2 linked regions of the Homo sapiens genome follow. The protein of the gene in region 2 purifies or fractionates together with the protein of the main gene of each other region. This does not show direct contact. Each region holds a gene or a part of one and is shown on either strand. Other genes may lie near its edges.

The links. Proteins that work in one complex are often made in the same cells at the same time.
Region 1: the proteins of AFTPH (region 2) and HEATR5B purify together in Homo sapiens (affinity purification with western blotting; 2 studies listed by BioGRID, with this or other methods). This does not show direct contact.

Annotation. Positions count from the first base shown.
Region 1 is NC_000002.12:37,053,373-37,060,404, reverse strand, and holds part of HEATR5B (HEAT repeat-containing protein 5B), read left to right. Parts: intron 1-1,417; coding exon 1,418-1,517; intron 1,518-1,844; coding exon 1,845-1,954; intron 1,955-2,924; coding exon 2,925-3,088; intron 3,089-3,789; coding exon 3,790-3,965; intron 3,966-6,797; coding exon 6,798-6,903; intron 6,904-7,032.
Region 2 is NC_000002.12:64,519,464-64,527,350, forward strand, and holds the start of AFTPH (aftiphilin), read left to right. Parts: upstream 1-4,864; 5' UTR 4,865-5,149; intron 5,150-6,049; exon of another isoform or gene 6,050-6,102; intron 6,103-7,887. UniProt on the Homo sapiens protein: Component of clathrin-coated vesicles.

The DNA.
Region 1 (7,032 bases), about 27 Mb from region 2:
ATAAAAATGAAACCCAGACTCTGAAAAAGTGTTTAGACCTGGTGGTTAGACAGGAACTAGAACCCAGGCCTCTTATTCCCACTTGTTGCTATCTTACCTGTCAAAGAAGCACTGAGTCACCATGTATAAAAAAAAGAAAAAATACCCAACAGCTATTTAAAGAAAAAGAAACTCAGGATTACCAAAGTTATTGGCATTTGCAGTTAGTCTTTTCATAATGGAGAAACAGCTGTTTTTTCACATCCTTATCAAATCTCCAAACCTTCATATATTTTTCAGATATCAACATTACAAAAATAACGGATACAGTTGTTTTTGTCTGGGAGTTAACAGCTTACAGGAAACGCTCAGGTTTTGTTTCGTTTGATAACTAGAATGACATTGGATGTACCAGTTCTTTTTTGGTTTATCTCAGAGTGAAAACTACTTCTTTTTCCAAACTGGGAGAGAGATACATGTTTCACCACAAGGGCAGCCAGGCAAGGGGGCACCTTTACTCTCACACATCTAGGAGGTGTTTTAGTCTAGGCTCTATTGCTAAGGGGCCAATAAAAATATTTTTTTCTCACTGGACCATTTTTGTTTATATACATATATATTTACACAAATATATGTAAAAATTCAAAATGCAAAAATATATGTAGTGGCCGGGTGCTGTGGCTCATGCCTGTAATCCCAGCACTTTGGGAAGCCAAGGCGGGTGGATCACTCTCAGGAGTTCTAGACCAGCCTGACCAATATGGTGAAACCTTGTCTCTACTAAAGATACAAAAATTAGCCAGGCGTGCTGGTGCTTGCCTGTAGTCCCAGCTACTCAGGAGATTGAGTCAGGAGAATTGCTTGAACCTAGGACGTGGAGGTTGCAGTGAGCCGAGATTCCGCCACTGCACTCCAGCCTGGTTGACAGAGTGAGACTCTCTCAAAAAAAAAAAAAAAAAAATATATATATATATATATACACACACACACACACACACACACACACACACACACACACATATACATATATATCTGTAAAAGTTGCAAAAATATATTTAATATATGTAAAAATTTCATGTAAATTTTAAGGCATTGTTTATACACATAAATGTATATGTGTATAAACAATGCCTTAAAATTTCTTTCTTTGTAGTCATCTGAATTCCTATGGGATCATAGTCCTCTGAATTTCCACCCGAAGAATCTCTCTAACCAGTACCTTCTCTTCCTCCATTTTTCTATCCACCTTTTTTCTAGCCTTTTCCACGATTTTTCTTTGTAGTTGTTGCAAGTTTTTCTTTTGGTTCGACATGGTTTCAGAACCTTATACGTTATAATAATTAAGTATTACAACTGCCTTTATATTTATACAATTTTATAAATTAATTCATGTTCACAAAAGCTACTCCAAATCTGTCCTTTTAAACATTTTATCTAGCCATGAGGAGCTTCGTTGCACATTGTCCTGAGCTACTAACTGAAGATGTGATTCGAAAATTGATGACCCCTATTGAATGTGCCATGACTATGATGTCACAGTAAGTAAGCGATTGAGACAAGTTCACATCCTATTTTATATATTAATAATATACTTCTCAGCCATATTTTGTGCTTTCTTCTAGAATCATCTAGGAAACATAAAACTTTATTTTTGTAATATAACTTTAAAAATTACAGCAATGGTGTGGATTGAAATACAGTTGTATCTTAAAGTGTTTTTGTTACAGCAAAGATCACAACATAAGCTAAAATGAAAGTGTATACTTATCAGTGTAGTTTGGCAGTACATTGATACATTGCTAAAAAAATTTATAAGTAATACTTATTCTGGTAAGCCATTACCAACTATGTTTTTGATATTTTAGCATTCCATCTGTAATGAAAGCCCATGGAGCTCATCTGAAAGCTAGTGCTGCAATGGTCCGTTTAAGACTTTATGATATCTTGGCTTTGTTACCTCCAAAAACTTATGAAGGTAAATTAAAAATTTGTGGTATCTGATAAAAATTTTTCTTTACAATTCTTCACCGTATTATAGAGTCTTGACAAAGGCTCTCCCACTGACTTACTGTGCAAAGGAAGGCCACCATTTTATTTTTCTTCATGTAGAGTAGCTGATACTTGTTGACTCCTTACTGTGTTCTGGGTCTCGTTTTCAGCCTTTTGTATTAGCTTTTTGACTGTGTTGCAACTTATGAGGCCTTTAGCCCTATTTTATAGATGAAGAATCTCAGATTGAGAGACTTAAAGAAACTTAACTTACCCAAGACTTAGAGGTAGTTAAGTGGCAGAGCTTGGATTCAAATCTAGCTGGTTTATCTTCAAAGTGTGCACTTTTGATTAATACACTGAAATGCTTCCTATATACTGTAATATAGCAAATAATTCGAGGATCTGGAGGGAGAAATCAAATATTATGTAAAATATTAATAGTAAAATAAACTATTGATTTCTTTCCAGTATAATCATGCCAAAGAATTTTGGTGTGCTGTGGTTCATTGTACATTATTGGGCAATAAATAATAATAATCATATCACATTTAATATATTTAAAATAAAGTATCTTTGTTTGTGTGTGTCTTTCAGACAGGGTCTTGCTGTGTTGCAGAGGTTTGTCTCAATCTCTTGGGCTCAAGCAATCCTCCTGCCTCAGCCTGCTGAGTAGCTGGGACTACAAGCATGCTATGGCACCCGCCTCTCTTTCCTCTATTTGAGTTTTTTGGTTATTTTAAATAATTTGGGCTAAAAGACACAATACAATATATGAAAGGAAGTACCATTATTGTATATTAAAACCAGCATTTAAATATAGATTTTTTTTAAAGAAGAGAACAGAGACTTAATTATTTTATTCCTGTTGAACATGTTGCAGCTCTTTGTGGGCAATGATTATAATTTTCACAAAAATTATTCTTTTTAATCTGATCTGAAGTTCTGTTTTTTAGGATCTTTTAATGCACTTCTTAGAGAACTGGTAGCGGAATTCACTTTGACTGACAACTCAGCCAACACAACTACTTCCCTCCTCAGATCCCTCTGCCATTATGATGATAGTGTTCTTCTTGGTTCTTGGCTTCAGGAAACTGATCATAAATCAATTGAAGACCAGGTAATAAACATAGAGGAAAATGAAATACTAACTTAATCTGAAACAATGGTCCTATTACACATTGTCACTTAAAAAGAAAATAGTGTATAGAAAGGTTTAATCCCCATTTAGTGTTCTTAGACACTTAAAGATGGCATCCTGGTGGTAGATAGTGAAAAAAGTTAAACAGGAAGAGTGAGAATTTGGCAAATTGTCTTTATTTAATATTCTGTGTATTTAGATACCTTGTGGTGGCTGTGATAAAGATCAGTTTTAACTGGCTTTTTGGTTATTGGTATTTTGTTTTGTTTTAGTTTGTTTTGTTTTGTGACAGGTTGGAGAGGAATGAGTTAGTAGGTTGAAGATTTAGAACTTTTGCCCACTGAATACATTATTTCTTATGTACTTTTTAAAGAGTGATTAAAGCCCCATTTAAAATAATTGTGGGATTAAGATCTTGTGTATATTGTTCACGCAATAAGGTGGGTGGTGTAAATATGTTTTCGAATGAATAAAGCTTTTCTTAAAATTTGTATAAGGTGTTACTGATGATTTTTTAATGACCAAATTACATTTTGGTCTGTTTTCAAATGTTCGGATCCAATCATTCTTTTTTTGTTGCCTTTTCTCCTTTCTCCTCTGCTGTAATCCTCATTCCCAATGTTTAATAAGTAGATTTCCTAAAGTAGATTTTGAATAATTTTTATTTCACTCTTTTGCAGCTCCAGCCAAACAGTGCCTCTGGAAGTGGGGCTCTGGAGCATGATCCTTCCTCTATTTATTTACGCATACCTGCTGGAGAAGCAGTACCTGGTCCCCTCCCTCTCGGAGTCTCAGTCATTGATGCTTCTGTGGCCCTTTTTGGTGTAGTGTTTCCTCATGTTTCTTATAAACACCGGTTAGTATAAAGTCAATCAGGTAATTTTTGTTAAATATATATTATGTTAAACGAAAAGTAGATTTTCTCATCCCAGTTAACTCTGCAATAAAGTGAGTTATTATAATACTTAAAACAGTACTCTTACAGATTTACTAATGTAAGTGACAGATACATGATAAAAAAATTGCATGCAAATTGCACATAATTTGAGACTTTATGTAAGATTTGACCCTGTGTACTAGCATCTGATATCTGTTGTATTGTGGACTGTATTTTATAACAAAATTTTCATTATATATGCTAGAATGACAACTGTTGGCAAAAAAAAAAATGCATTATAATAGTTTGTTTGATAGTTCATACATAGGTTTTGACTATATCTTAAATTAAGGACATCAGTTTGCTAAGCCTGTTGACTTTGTTGTTGAGGAAGTAAATGGATGAAAATTCCAATCACTAATAACGTTTGTGAGATGGTTCAAGTCTAGAACTTGGAAACTAACATAATTGGTTCTTTTTGTAATAGAAGCATTTTGGTTTGGTATATTCTGTATCCACAGACACTATTCCTAGCTTTAGTAGGCAGTTTGTATATTGTGATTTTCCCAAAAGGAAAACAGAAATGAATTAATACAAGACCATCACAGATAACTTAAAAGCTTTACAAAATTAAAATGCCTTAAAAGTATTGTTGGGTCTGGTGTGGTGGCTTATGTCTGCAATCCCAGCGCTTTGGGAGGCTAAGGCAAGAGAATTGCTTGAGGCAAGGAGTTTCAGACCAGCCTGGGAAACATAGTGAGACACTCATCTCTACAAAAATTACAAAATAAAAAATGTCTTTAATATGTAGGTTGCTTGATTAATTGCTTTTTAATTTGAGGAGAAAAAAGTTTAAATATGAAACTTTACCCAAATATCTTTAAGAACATTTGGTTGCCACATAAATGTTAAATGATGTTAAAGGTGGAAGAATCTTATAAAGCATCTATTTCAACATTTTGGTTTTAAATCTTAAGGACATCCATATCTAAGAGTTTGGTTTACCCAAGGTTATACAACTAGTTATGAAAGCTATAACTGAAATCCAGGATTATCTCAATTCTGTATGATCACTTTTACAGAATAAGATGAAGTATAAATAAATAAATTCTATTAAAAATATAAACATATAATAAATAACATAAATATTCAACAGTAGGAGGATAAGTGAATAAATAATAGAAAGTCCATTTTTGTAGAGACAGTGTTTTGATAGAAGATGCTCATGATACAATGTTAAATTAAAAAGGTAAAAAGCAAGAAGTGATCCTACTTTGGTTTTCAACCAGCAGGCTGTGCGGCTTAATATATTTACTGCTGTTCTTAGTGCACAAAAGGTACTTACTTACTTTTAAGAATTTTTTAAAGTACATCAAAATGTGCATGTATACACGTACATCTGAATCTGTATCTTCATATGAGTTTTGAATAATGCTTTGACCTGAGACCTGAGACCTGTAGACTAGTATAAATTGAGCTTTAAATCCTTACAGCGACCTCAGGGAGATTTTATTACCAACTTGAGGTCATAATTGTCTTAGTACTAAATCCAACTTCCTTGGATTCCTTTGTTTCACATCATTTCTTTTTAGAAGAATGCTCTCTCACTCTCTTTTTATCAAAATCTTCTGAAATGGGCCGGGCGTTGTGGCTCACACCTGTTATCCCAGCACTTCGGGAGGCAAAGGTGGGCAGATCACCTGAGGTCAGGAGTTTGAGACCAGCCTGGCCAACATGGTAAAATCCTTCTCTACTAAAAATACAAAATTAGCTGGGTGTAGTGGCGAACACCTGTAGTCCCAGCTACTCGGGAGGCTGAGGCAGGAGAATCATATGAACCCAGGAGGCAGAGGTTGCAGGGAGGCAAGATTGCACCATTGCACTCCAGCCTGGGCAACAAGAGCGAAACTCAGTCTCAAAAAAAAAAAAAAAAAAAAATGCAGAGCACAGTGGCTCACGCCTGTAATCCCAGCACTTTGGGAGGCCGAGGTGGGCAGATCACCTGAGGTCGGGAGTTCGAGACCAGCCTGACCAACATGGAGAAACCCAGTCTCTACTAAAAATACAAAATTAGCCAGGCGTGGTGGCGCATGCTACTCGGGAGGCTGAGGCAGGAGAATCACTTGAACCTGGGAGGTGGAGATTGTGGTGAGCCGAGATCGCGCCATTGCACTCCAGCCTGGGCAACAAGAGCGAAACTCCATCTCAAAAAAAAAAAAAAAAAAACAGAGAAATCATCTAAGATGGCCATGGATTTTTTTTTTTTAATAAACTGATTCTTTTTTATTAATATAAAAAACAATTCACTTCTGGTTTTTTACATTTAAAAAAATTAGCCAAAGCTAAATCTTTTTTGAACTTTCCCAAAAGCTTCTGAGGCTAGGACATGAGGTACTATTCTAAGAGTATTTTTAAAATAGGAAAAAGAATTATACTACATTTAAAATTTTCTAACTTAAAAATCTTCCACGGAGATACATAATTAATGATTGTTATCTTTGCAAGAAACCTTGAGCGTCTACTAGATGCCAGGCGCTTTGTTGGACAGTGCTGTTAATGTTGAAGACCACTGCAATTGTGACCTTATTTTGTTAATTGAAACTCTTTTCTTGTTCCATTTAATAACCGCATGTCCATATAATATTTTGGGAGAAGGAGATCTGGTTTGGACTAGCTGTGGGAATGAAATAGAAAAGAGATAGCATGGGGAATTATTTGCTAAACAATTAACTTGTACTCTTCTTATCCGTTTTTGAGCCATATTGGAATAAAATTTGTCACTAATGTGATTTTTTTTTCTTATTGTTATAGATTACAAATGTTGGATCACTTTGCTGAATGTGTTAAACAAGCTAAAGGTGTCCGCCAGCAGGCTGTGCAGCTTAACATATTTACTGCTGTTCTTAGTGCACTAAAGGTATTTACTTTTAATACATACTATTCTGAAATAAGTTTTTAATTAATGCATTTAATAAGCCAGACATAGCAAGATTATTATAATGTTTATATGTAAATCACTTGGTAACTGTGCCTTTACGTTAGCTTA
Region 2 (7,887 bases):
CAAACAAAAAAAACAGAAATACATTAAATTTTTTTTTCTAGAACTACCCACGCCACTCATTCAATGGAATGTCATTTACTGAATAAATATGTATCGCCATCAACCATGTACCAGGCCACTTTCTTGAAGTTGGGAATATAGAAATGAATAAAGCAGACAGAAGTCTCTGCCTTCATGCAACTGTTAAAATTGCATGAAAACTATTTCTATTGTATTTCCCTGGATCCTATGACTACACAAATTTAAAGACAGATGTAGGTTTTAAACAAAGGTTCAGCATTGTACAATAGAAATATAATGTGAGCCACATTGTGATTTAAAATTTTCTAGTAGCTAGTTTTAAAAAGTAAAAAGAAACAGGTGAAATTAATTTTAATGTTTTACTTTATATATTTTTGTCATGACTCACTGCAAGGTTTCCACTTCTCTTCACCTTGAAATAAGGGACAAAAGTAGAAATAGAGTTATCACTTCCACAGTGCCCTGAGGCCAATCTCCTTCAAAATAAAGGAGACTTTTCTCCTGAGAGACAAGTTGCTCAGAAAGGTCATGTTTTCTCCAGGTGATCAGGCTGAATTTCACAACATAGCAGGTTGATAGTGGAACCATTATAGCACATAATGAGCCCTTCAAAGCTTTGCTCAGAGCCAAAAGAGAGGCTTGAAGACTAGAATAAAGAAGAAGGTTGGGCTGCAGCTCCCTTCAGGAGAACACTCCATCTATATTGCTCCATATGTGGTAAGCCCATGAGTGGGTACAGGTTCAGTCCTTGGGGCTGTGAAGTGCAAGATCAAGGTGCCAAGAGATTTGGTTGTTTGGTGCGTGCTGTTCTCTGCTTCCAAGATGGCACCTTGTTGTCAAATCCTCCAAAGGGGGTGGAACGCTGGTCCTCATGTAGCAAAAGAATATGTCTAGATAAATCTAGGAAATTAGTTTGAGGTCTTTGATTTAAATGTTACGTATTCAGGTCAATTACCACTACCAGAAGCCCATCCTTCAAAAGTTTTTCGTTGGAAAGTTCTATAAAATTTGTTAGAACTTTATATACAGAATTTGAGCCTTTAAAAAATTTGCTGAAAAAGTTTCAGCACCTTTAGAAATAATGTAGTCAAACAGCAGTTTCTTCCCTACCTCTCCAATTTTATGGATAAAATTAATACTGTCTTAACAGGTTAAGACATATTAAATATTGAAATATTCAATATTTTCCCTGATACATTGAATATGTCCATAAAGTTCTAGATATCCAGTACTCCAGGAAGTACTATAACACCAAATTGTAATTTTTATTATTTATGCAATAAATTTGATAAGCAAATCCAAGAAAGATCAGTGGGAATGATTAAGAAACAAAATCTCTGTTGCTCATCACACTTTGGGAAAGTCGCTCATTATTATTATTATTATTATTATTATTGAGAAGGGGTCTTGCTCTGTCAGCCAGGGTGGAGTGCAGTGGCGCAATCACAACTCACTGCATTCTTGACCTCATGGGCTCAGGTGATCCTCCTACCTCAGCCTCCCGAGTAGCTGGGACTACAGGAGCATGCCACCTCACCTGGCTAATTTTTTGTAAAGATGGAGTTTCACCATGTTACCCAGGCTGGTCTTGAACTCCTGGGCTCAAGTGATCTGCCCACCTCGGCCTCCCAAAGTGCTGGGATTACAGGCGTCACCCATCATGCCCAGCCTAATAACCTATTTTTATAGAACTGTATGAAGGACATATTTCAAGAGGTAGTGGTGACATAATACCTGTAATCCCAGCGTTTTGGGAAGCCAGGGTGGGTGAATTGCTTGAGCCCAAGAGTTTGAGACCAACCTGGGCAACATAGTGAGACCCCATCTCTACAAAAAATAAAAAAATTAGCTGAGCGTGATGACATGCACCTGCAGTCCCAGCTACTTCGGAGGCTGAGGTAGGAGGATCCCTTGAGCCCAGGAGGTTGAGTCTGCAGTGAGCCGTGATGGCACCACTGCACTCCAGCCTGCGCAATGGAGGGAGAACCTGTCTCAAAAAAATAAAAATATAAATAAATAAATAAATAAATAAAATTTTAAGTAAATGTTTAGATACAGAAAGGACCTTGGCGATTATCTGGTGCATATTTCTTAAGCTGTGGTTCAAAGACCCTCTTCTGTGAATGAGCTTTAGGATGAGAAATTTGAGTGTCTGTGGATACAAGCATTTTTCTATAGAAAGAGCCAAAGCTTTTACCGTATTCTTAAAGAGATACATGTGCCAAAACATTATTTGTCCTAAGAGGGTTGAGAACCTGTGATCTGACTGTATTCTCTCATTTGTTATATAAGGAGACTGAGGTCAAGAGAGGTTGAGTAACTTATACAAAATCATAGTGACAACAGAACTGGTCATAGACCCAGGTTCTACGCATATTGCTTTTCCAGAACACCAACACATTGCTGAGGTTTTGTTCTTGCTTGTCTGTTAATTTCTTACACAATATAAAATGAATTAAACTGTTTTCACTTTTTATTCTTTCCATCTTTTTTTCCCCTCTTAATTATCATTCACTGCTGGTTGGTAAGGAGGTGGTAAAATTAGTGCACTCATATATTGCTGGTGGCATTCTAAATTAGCAGTCTCTTGGAAAATAATATGAGATGATAAATTACCAATAAAACATTCATTGCCTTTTCGCTTAGTAACTTTTATACTGAGAAAAAAAATTCTAAAATTGAACAAAGCCACACACACAAAATGTTCATCTAAGTATTATTTTATAATACTGAAAACTATCCATATAGTGGTCATTCCATTGACTACTAAGCAGCCAATTAAAATTAAGGTTTTACATTAAACGATGGGTGGAAATGCTTACAACACAAAAGGGACACAAAATCTACTTAAATTATGATTACAAGTTTGTAAAAAGTACGCACAGGAAAAAAAAACTAGAAGTAAATACAACAAATGTTAACTGGTAATTTTTTTCTTCTTCTTTTCTTGATGCCAAATCTTAGGTAATGCAGTTATGGCCATAATTTTTAAAAGGTAAATAAAAACAATACTATCATTGACTCCAAATGAAATGGACTTTATATTTCCCACAGATTTATCACCTTAAAAACACTCAAATACTTTCCCTTTGTAATAAAATGTCATGAGCATTAGGGCACTGTCTTCGGAATTACATGTAAGATTACCAATTACAAGTTAGTTGGCCAAATAGGTACTCAATTTCCCTATTACAAAATTGTAAGCTGATGGGGGGTGTGCAATTTAATTTAATTTTTTTTTAGACAGGGTTTCACTCTGTCGCGCAGGCTGGAGTGCAGTTTAAATTCATTTAGTTTAAACATGTTCTTAGTGTAGGGTCTGCTTTAAGGTCTAGTCATATGTTCTTATTTTGATATTTCTGTTTAGTAGAGCTGTAAAATGAAAACAAGCATGTGTTCGTTTAAAATCAATTTCTAGTTTCTACACACACACAAATTCAAGCTTGCACACGAGCTAAACCAGCAGGGGGCGAAATACAATAGGCATAAATTTGACAAGCCATATAGATTTTTCTTACTTTAGTGACTGAGCAATAACACAAAATCCAGCATAACCACAAAGCAATTGATACTCCCATTTAAAGTGATGCAGTCTCCGTATATCTTACAGCGATTGAATAGTAAAGAGACAAATGCGGGTCCATTGGAGCGCTCCGAGTTAATTTGTCTAGAACATTGCAGAGGCGGGATAAATCGTGATGAACTGCTATTGTCCTTATCTTTCTCCTGATTTGTATAATTCCTCCACCCAAAGGGGTGGACACTTCTCTGTGCCTGAGGGGATGTTTTCCATTCTTGTTTCTTTGCGTAACTGCTGAGCTTTGCTGTTTTGGAACTATTTTAAATTATTCAAATTACTGATGCAGACGTTTGGCAAATATGGGCAGAATGAGGGGCCGGCGGGGGTCATGATTTGTAGGACCCCGGGCTCATCATCCGAGACAGTAATCATAATCCTGTAGCCTTGTAGTCTGATTGTTACACTGGCAGGTGTTCTAACAGATATTCATTGTAAAGGAGGAGGAAAGGTAATATTTTTATTACCTTTATATAAATAACAGTTGATTATATAAATAATCAACTGTTCAGGACTGATGATGGAAACAAAATCGGTTACGACCTCTGTTCCAGAAATGCGTTTGAATGCATAAGTTTATGGTGATCTCTTTAGCTTCACTAGATATTCTCCGTAAGGGTCTATGAAAAACGACCACCTTCTCCATCCATTAGCCAAATTCCGGACTACTATTTTCTTGTCGGTCTCGAAGACGATTTGTCAGTTTGGCGGCTGCTTTCCCACCTTAAATTCTATTTATCGCAACCTCTTGTTATTTGTTAAATATCAGCTTCTTCCTCTGTCGGCATAAATTTAAAAAGAGGAAGAGACAGGCTGTGAATGAAAAAGTCGTTTTTCGGGGCGAAAAGGGCAAGCTGACGAATGCTCTCTAGTAGGTTTTTGGTAAAAATGTGGTTCTATATTTCCAAACCTTTACAATTTTATTTGGAGAGCAAGAGACTTAATCCGGTCTTGAGCTGAACGTTAACCGGCTGAAAGGAGCACCTGTCCTTCGCCAGGAGCGCAGCCTCAACCGGCGCCTGAGTGCGGGAAGACGTCTATCCCCCTACAGCTCTATGACTCGCAAGGAAGTAAAAGGAAAGGGCAGCTTGCCCGCACCCAAAATGGCGGTCGGCGCTCTGCACGACAGCGCCTGCGCAGGGATAAGCGTTCTGTGACACCAATTCCCCTGGAGTGTCCTCCCCCACCCCACAGCACCCACCAGCGCCCGGTCCCGACCTAGCCACCTGCGCCCGGAAGTGACGTGTCGGCGGCAGCGGTTCCCCCGCTGCATGATGGGAGAGTGTGTGGAGTGGGCGGGGGGTCTCCGCGGAGGAGGTGGAGGAGGCGGCGGCGGCGGCGGAAGAGGGCGGAGGGTAGTGGGATGGGGGTCCCGCGGCAGCGGTGAAACTCCGGGTGGGCGTCCATGGTGCTGCTGCGCTGACAGGGCTGTGAGCAGCCGGCCTTCCGCTCTCACCAGTTCCGCGTCGGAATAGACGGTCCTTCCCCGGGGAGTCAGTTCCTCCCCGGGCCCCTGAGCCATGCCCATCGCAGCCGCCCCGAAGGAGCCAGGTAAGCGCCGCCGCTCCGCTCCCCTAGCTGCGCCGGGGAAAGAGGGTGCGGGGACCAGGCCCGGCCCAGCAGCCAGACCCTCACCCGGGCCGGGAGCATCTGCCCGCCGCGGAGCCGGGAGCTGTGAGGACGGAGCTGGCTCTGCGGGCCTGCGGGCTCCCGGCTCTGCTCTCTTCTGCGGCGAGTGCGGGAACGCCGCTGGTGGCGCCCGAAGCGCACGGCCCCCTCCTCGCCATCCCGGGCACCGGCCGGGTAAGTGGGAGTCCTTCCCTCCCCGGCCACCGCCGGCTCTCCCTGCCCCTTTGCTTCCACCTCCCAAAGCTCCGCGCTGGCTGCGTTCTCCAGGGAGCTGTTCAGAAGTTTGGGGCTTTGCTTGGGCTTCTTCGCTCTCCTTCCCCCTCCCTCGTGACAGGTGTAAACACTGCCTCCTTCACCGAGGCCCGAGGCTGGCCGCGACCTGAGTGTGCTGCTTCCAAGGGTCTCTGAAGCAAGCGAATTTGGAATCCTCCAACAGGCAGAGGGGACAGCCCCAAAGCTCACGCATCCCTTCCTCAGAGTACCTTTTCTGCTGTCTTCTTGCACTCTTCAAGAAATTATCTGCGTCTCCTCTCCAGTTTGCGTTTGAAAAGTTGGACCATATTCCTTAAGTGCCTGGTTTGGCAGGTGCTGCGTCTTGCTTGGGGCAGAGGCAGAGTATGGAGTGAGGGGTGGTAGGGTCCTTGCTCTATTAGGAAAGTAATGGGGATAGCAAGGTTTTTTTTTCCTTGTTGCTTTGTGCAAGTTATAGCTTGGTTATACTGAATCTTTTCTGTTGGGGCCGAGGGAAGAACTGACTCATACATGTAAATTTTTTACTGGGCGGGGGGATGAAACAAAAGTAATGGTTCCGTTTCAAAGTTCTCACTTTAGGAGAAGTAAAGTAGAACTTTGGTTTTCAACTTTTCCTACAGTGTAAGTCTTCCTTCCACCTCCTATTCCGAGGATTTTATTTGGTGGAGGGGAGACACAGAGTTTATCTTTGATGCTACACTTAATTGTTGCTTTCAGTTAACCTCTTAGACATTAAAATATATGCTAAACTCTAGGGACAACAAATGTTTCAACATTATTATGTTAATATAATTAACACAGTCACGTACATTTTATATGCTTTACCAGTTTAAATGTTGGCTTTTTTAGTAGTCATTTTTAACACTTCGCAGAGGTATATTTGTTTAAACAAAGTATCTGTGGTAGTCTCCTAAATTTTGTTCATAAAGATATTTCACATGGATTAAAAGACAGATCTTGTGTAAAACATCTAGCCCAGTAAATGGCACCTAGCAGATATTCATTAGCTCTAGTTGTTCCTCCGTGGATTAAATTAGATATATCAGTTGATCTTCAAAGTACACATATATTTTTAAATCTTCAAAAACCTCTGGAAAAAAATCCACTACAATTCACATAATATGTAGGGCATTTAAGTTTTAATGTTTGCTGATCTTTTGACCTAGAGACTGTTAAAAAATAATCCCGTATCACAACAAGGATAATATGTCCTTAATAGCCTTGATACATCTTGCCGAATCCAGTTTTCGTTATGAAAATTGTATAGTGTGGGTGAATCATATCATAAAACATCATTTTACATTTTCATTTGTTCTGCTTACATTTAGTGAAAAACTAGTTCAGAAATGTAGTGACATTTGAGTACCAAATAATGTTTTATTTTGTGTGAAATCTAAAGTGCTTTCCTCAGCAGGCAAAGTCTTTGAATAGCTTCTCATTAAGGGATTGCCCCTTCTCTCCCAACCCTTCCCCCAAATCTCATAAAAGGAGGCCGCTAAGTATTTAGATATTTTTTAATCATCATAAATTATTTAAATAAAATGTTTATATTCTAATTTAATGTTACCTACACTTTGTAGATTAAAAAATAAAGGTTTTTCCCTCTATTCTTAGCACTTTCAATTCCTTTTTAAGTAGAATAGTGAACCTTTCTAGCCGGAACTTTATAAGTATTTTTAGTTTTTACACTATTTTGAAAATCTGGCATTGTATGGATTTTACATATCTCATTTTGCTAATCATTTTCTCAGTTTGTGCATATATCAGATATAGTCACAAGTTCTTTTGCAGCTTTATATGATAATTGCTAACACATGAGCAGTATATATGTTGCTCATATATATTGCTTCCTATGAGCAAGATAGTTTTCTAAATGCTTTATATACAGTGTACTAACTCAATCCACACAACAACCTGTAAGGCAGTAAGTAGTAGTATCCCTCATTTTTCAGAGAGGAAACTGAGGCACACAGATACTAAGTAACTTGCCTTAGGTCAAACAGCTGTTAAGTGACAGATCCGTTTGCTAGACCATTTATATAGTCTCATGCAAAACTATACTATGTATTGTCTGTGATTTGTGCAATATGTAGCAAAAGTATAACAACATGCATGGGAATGATAAACACCAAGTCAGACTAAAAGTGACCTTTGGAGAACTTGAGAGGGATGAAGGATCTAGGAGGGGCCCATGGGTTTACAAACATATCTTTATATCCTTAAAAAAAATCCGAAGTTGACTTGTTAAGAGATTAAGATTTAACACACCTGGGTGATGGTTACTGGCTCATTCATTATGGCTTTTTTCTCCCTAAGGTTTGCATGAAGTTCTTCACAATGAAATTAAAAGTTTAAAGGCCGGGCATGGTGGCTCACACCTGTAATCCCAGCACTTTGGGAGACCGGGG